2 separate regions of the Homo sapiens genome follow, and region 2 is linked to region 1. The links come from fine-mapping of genetic effects on gene expression. A gene starts in region 1. The other region holds a variant in brackets. All regions are shown on one strand. Distances are between the middles of the regions. Region 1 holds the start of CACNA1D (calcium voltage-gated channel subunit alpha1 D). Region 2 overlaps CACNA1D (calcium voltage-gated channel subunit alpha1 D).

Region 1 (2,903 bases):
TAGACAGGAGCTGCTGTTTGCAAATCTCCCCCATTCCAAATCTGAGCCAGCAAAGGTATCATAAAACAAACTTGCTCAGGGAATTTTGTAGAAAAGGCCTCAAGAGGCAAGGCTTTAGACCAGGAGTTCTGAAAGTGACATGTGTACTTGTGAATTTCATACATGCTCCTTGGATGGGCTAGTTTCTTTGGAGGGAACCGTCTTCTATTCCCTTCAGATTTTGGATCAGAAGCAGCCATAGGAGAGGTGGCCCAGGCCAGCTTTATATTGTTACTAGACCGTAGGGCGATTTCTCGCCTCTCCAGTCTCCAAAAACAAAGCACAAAAAAGGACAAGAGCCTGGTTGTTTTCATCCTCACGGACCAGACACCCCCTCAGGAAGGCCTCTGGAGAGTCTTCTGTCTGGTCCCCAGTCTCTCTGCCCAGGTGCCCCCCAACAATTGAGGATGACTAGTGTGTTCTCTTTGGGTAAGGAGCACCTTCCCATAAACACTTATTTTTCTTAATTCACGCTGAGCTTTTACTTTATTTTCGCTTTAAAGTCACTGTTCTGAAACGTTCTAAAACGCCGTAGGAACATGCAGATAGGAACAAAAGCAAATAAATCGAATCCTGTGAAGTAACAAAGCAGACGCCCTTCTCCTAACAGGCAGCACAAAGCTAAATGAAAAATATCAGTCATCCACTAGATAAAGTATTTTCCCCTTTAGACAGGAGCTGCCGTTTGCAAATCTCCCCCACCCTAAATCCAAGCCAGCGAAGGTATCAAAAAATAAACTACTCCCTTCAGCTCCCAGACTGGAGGCAACAGTTTCAGCAGCACCGTCTATTTCCTTGAACAACACGAGCGGTTTGAAAGACCTTGGCTTTGACTTCCCTGTACCTGCCTCCAAACACACGTGGGGGCGGGGTGGGGTGGGGGGAGATATTGCCCCCCATCCCCGTTGCCTTCCGCGACGCCAGGCCAGGCGCAGGGCAGGGGAGAAGATGGGGGGCGCCCTGGATTCGCGGTTCCAGCTGCAGGCAGTTACCTGGGGTAGTGAGTGCTCTCTACAGACCCGGGCTACCCCAACCCCCCCGATTCCAGAAAGGGCCGGAGAAAAGCAGGGGGCGCCTGCCCCGCTCCGGAGCAGCCAGGGAGCCCGGCCGAGCCTTGACGAGGATGAGCTCGGAGACCGCAGCAGCTACCGCCCGCTAGCACCTGAGCTCCCAGGGGGCGGGGCCTCCTCCAGGTGTGCGCAGAGGAGGCCGGCGCGGAGTCGGGGCCGGCGCGGGAGCCCGAGCTGTCCCCCAGCCCAGAAATGCGCGGGGAGGAGCGGTTCATCCGCACCCCAGCGCCGCGGGAGACACTGGCGCCGCCTGCCTCCTCCGGGTCCCGGGGGGAGAGCGCACCGTGCGGCGCGGAGGGGGTTAACCGGGCAGCCCGCCGCTGGAGCGCGCTTAACCCTTTGGAGCCCGCAGGTCAGCCGGGCCAGGCTGGGGTGGCGGCACCCCGAGTCCCACGCGACGGCCACCCCGAGCGCGCAAGTGGTGCCGGGCAGAACCGCGCGCCGGGCTGCAGACCCGCCGGGGCGCGGCGCGGCGCGGGCCGTGGGCGGCTCGGGGCGGGCGGAGGGCGGGGGACGGCGGCGGGCGCGCAGCGTCGCCAGGGCGAAGCCGGCGTGCGGCGCGGCGCGGCGGGCGCGGAGCGAGCGGGCGGGCGAGCGCCTCCGTCCCCGGATGTGAGCTCCGGCTGCCCGCGGTCCCGAGCCAGCGGCGGCGCGGGCGGCGGCGGCGGGCACCGGGCACCGCGGCGGGCGGGCAGACGGGCGGGCATGGGGGGAGCGCCGAGCGGCCCCGGCGGCCGGGCCGGCATCACCGCGGCGTCTCTCCGCTAGAGGAGGGGACAAGCCAGTTCTCCTTTGCAGCAAAAAATTACATGTATATATTATTAAGATAATATATACATTGGATTTTATTTTTTTAAAAAGTTTATTTTGCTCCATTTTTGAAAAAGAGAGAGCTTGGGTGGCGAGCGGTTTTTTTTTTAAATCAATTATCCTTATTTTCTGTTATTTGTCCCCGTCCCTCCCCACCCCCCTGCTGAAGCGAGAATAAGGGCAGGGACCGCGGCTCCTACCTCTTGGTGATCCCCTTCCCCATTCCGCCCCCGCCTCAACGCCCAGCACAGTGCCCTGCACACAGTAGTCGCTCAATAAATGTTCGTGGATGATGATGATGATGATGATGAAAAAAATGCAGCATCAACGGCAGCAGCAAGCGGACCACGCGAACGGTGAGCAGCCAGAGCCCGGGCACCCGCTGCCAAATCCGATCCTGTCATGGTCCTCCAGCCCCCTCCCCCTTCCCCGCGGCGCTGGATGGGTTGAGGGGGTTGGAGAGGGTGCTGCCAGCTCGGTGTCGTCTACACAGAGAGGGGACATGCGTGACAGCCACTCCGCGCTCCCCTCCAGGCCCTGAATGTCAGAGTTAATTCTGCATTTGTGGGGTGGGGGCGGCCGTGGAGTGTGTGGAGCGCGGTGCAGCCGGAGGGGCGGCGAGTCGGGGTGATTCGGGTTCAGTGTCCTCGGGCTCAACTTTCCTTCAACGCCCCCGAGCGATGGCAGGAGGGCCGCAAGTCTTCAGCCGGAGCCCCCTTGCCAGCCTCTTCTCGCCTTCCACTCCTCCCCCGCCCCCTCGTTGACTAGGAAGAAGGTCCCTGGTGGCATCCGGAAAATTCTAGGATTGCCCGGTTTCGCCCTCCGCGCCGGTGGGTGAAGCACACCCATCCCCTCGCGGGGGAGGCCCGGCCTCGGTATCGGGGAAAGGGGTTCGGGTGGAGCGTGCGTTCCCGCTCCCGTCGCCGGCTGTGCACACGTCGGTAACCTAGCAATGCCCGGGGAGCCGCTGCCGCTGTGGGGCTC
Region 2 (2,903 bases), 210 kb after region 1:
TTTTGAGATGGAGTCTTGCTCCGTTGCCCAGGCTGGAGTGCAATGGTGCAATCTCAGCCCGCCGCAACCTCTGTCTGAGTGGGATTCTTTCTAATTGTGGGCAGAGGGTGGCACTTGGTGAGGATTCCAGTTTCTTATCTGAAGTATTAGTGTCACTGGGTGTGCAAGCATCTGTTCAGCCCCTCGACAGCCTAGAGTTAAGAGACGGGTGTGAATATGGGGTTAGTTTTGTTGTTGTTGTTATTATTATTATTATTATTTTGGAGACAGCGTCTTGCTCTGTTGCCCAGGCTGGAATGCAGTGGCATGAACTTGGCTCACTGCAACCTCTGCCTCCCAGGTTCAAGCAATTCTCTTGCCTCAGCCTCCTGAGTAACTGGGACTGCACCACCATGCCCAGCTAATTCTTTTTATTTTAGTAGAGATGGGGTTTCACCATGTTGACCAGGCTGGTCTCAAACTCCTGACCTCATGATCCACCCACCTTGGCTTCCCAAAGTGCTGGGATTACAGGCGTGAGCCACCGTGCCTGGCTGGGGTTAGCTTTATGAAAGCAGGTCACTTCCCCATTCGTGGGTTGGGTTGGGTTGAGTTGGGTTGGGTTGGCTTATCGAGGTAGGACCCTGAAAGAGACATGCTGGCTTTGACTCGGAACAAAGGCAAGAAGGCAGACAGAAGTAACCTGTGTCAGAATCTCAAGGTCTGTGTGCAGAAACTGCATTGCTGTAACCTCACCTGCTTCCTTGGCAGCTTTTTACTAAGTCTCTAACTCACATATCTTGGCTCCTATAACAACTCACGGTTGGAGATGCAGATGGTTCCTCATATATAAAAATTGGGTAATCGTCCACCTGACTCTCAGGCTTGCCTGAGTATGTGGGGTTTTGTATATATGCATAGTCAGAGGCTTGCACACATGGTGGAAAGTAGCATAAACACCCCACAATTGGGAACATTTACCTGTCTGCCAGATCTTTTCCAGGGCAGGTGTTCCTATAAATGGGCAGAAAATCATATGCCTCTTCCCCTCCTGCAGGGAAGACTTTTGGGGAAGACCATGACAAGTAGCAGGGGTTAAGAAAAACAGTAATGCTTCATCAGTGCTCGAGTTCCCATCTGGGAAGGGAGAACTGGGTTGTGGAGGGGGTGGGGACTGCCCTGACTCCATGCACTGCTCTGGCCCGAACCTGCAGGTGATGGGTAGAGGAGCCTAGTGTGGGCACCAGCAAGGACTGCTGCCTGCTCAGAGCTCTTGGTTTGGACAAAAGGGGTAGCACACAATATTAATGCAAAGTTTGTCCAAAAGCATTGAAGAAGTTCTAAACTTGGTACTCTTTGACCACAGCTTGGCCCATTTGGGTCCCTCCTCTTTGAGGAGGCTCTGGGGAAAGTGGGGCGTCTCTGAGTTCAGGCCCCTTGTTGGGGGGTGTCAGAGGCCTGCCATGACAGCACATGGTGTTTTGGGCCTAGGCCCCTTGAGATCGCTGTCATCGAGGGGAGTTCATTTTCTAAGAAATGATGCATGTGTGTTGGTGTGGGCTCTGCGACTCTGACCCCCATAGTCTTGCTTTGGAAGACACTGTCTTCTGTCCTGTCCAAGTGTGTGGCTCCATTGCTGTGCTCATGTGACTATACTCAGTGCTGTGTGTCCTGCCCACAAGACTGTTGTGCA[G/A]TAGGGCAGTGGCTCAGGATGCAGGTCCCCAAGGATGTCCTGATATGTGCTTGTCCTCTTTGCCTCCTTCAGAGAATTCTCAAAGGAAAGAGAGAAGGCAAAAGCACGGGGAGATTTCCAGAAGCTCCGGGAGAAGCAGCAGCTGGAGGAGGATCTAAAGGGCTACTTGGATTGGATCACCCAAGCTGAGGACATCGATCCGGAGAATGAGGAAGAAGGAGGAGAGGAAGGCAAACGAAATAGTATGTAGCGCCTTTCCTGCCCCTGGCTAGACAGACCCAGTGTGCGGTTCAGACGCCTAGCAGTAGGCCTTCCTCGACTCTGACCCAGGCTGTGAGTGGGACAGCCTCCTCCCAGCCATCTGGTCCCTTCTGCCTGCACACATCACGGAGAGAACAGGTGCATTGGTGCTGACTCTGGATTTCTGCCTGAGGTTTGGGGTTTAGAGTTGTATTTGGTAAGGTGGCTTTATAGCCAAGGAAGGTCAAACGGACCCACTGTTGGCCTGGGAAATTCAGTAAGCGCATTTCTGTGCGGGCACAGGGGTGATGAGACACATATTCTTGTACCACAGGAGAAGAAGCTGTGGTTTCCCTCACCTCAGAGTGAACAGTGTTATTGGACAAGAATTTGAAGTGCAGGGTTCCTCTTGACTCTTACTCTTAGGCCACCTGACATGGCTCCTACATGTGCTATTCATATGAAGCCATATGCTTAGCCCATCAGGGGCTGGGAGGAAACCGGCTCACCATTCTAGGCAGGTGTTAAGGGGCACGTGAGTCAGTGACAGCTGCTTTGCTGTCACCCATCGACACCCCACACTGTGACACTAAGCACCCTAGAGCACCTTCTGCAGGAGGCAAGGCCTGAGAACTCAGTCCATCACTGACATTAATTGCCATTGTCAACCACGGTGTCTCTTTCACTGCATACTTTTCCCACAGATGCGCTCTTATTCTCTCTGGGGCCCTTTGTGCCTCGGGTCAGAGTGGAAACTGGAATCCAGCAATGCATTTGACTGAGATGTCTGTGACTTGCTTCAAATCTAGAAGAGTTGGATAGGAAGGACCAAGAACGTACTTCAAGTGCACATGTCCATTGAGAGGCCTGGGGACCCGAGGCCGGCCCTACGTTGTAGAAGATGGCCGAGCAAGTCCCTGCTTGAGCAGAGCGCCTTGGATGTTTTGCTCTCAGCAAGGCCTGTTGCTGGGTACAGGGGAAACCCAGAGCT

The links. PIP is the estimated chance that this variant, and not a neighbour inherited with it, causes the effect.
Region 2: its variant is fine-mapped to the expression of CACNA1D in whole blood (TOPMed, PIP above 0.99).

Annotation. Positions count from the first base shown.
Region 1 is chr3:53,492,959-53,495,861 of GRCh38, forward strand. CACNA1D (calcium voltage-gated channel subunit alpha1 D) reads left to right here and starts at 1,653. Exons shown (of 48, transcript NM_001128840.3): 1 at 1,653-2,275. The coding sequence starts at 2,209. RefSeq lists enhancers at 1,102-1,601, 1,932-2,717, 2,718-2,903.
Region 2 is chr3:53,700,897-53,703,799 of GRCh38, forward strand. CACNA1D (calcium voltage-gated channel subunit alpha1 D) reads left to right here. Exons shown (of 48, transcript NM_001128840.3): 9 at 1,745-1,914. Among named protein-coding and RNA genes, the nearest start is that of CHDH, 140 kb to the right of the region's middle. The variant G/A (reference allele first, on the strand shown) is at 1,673.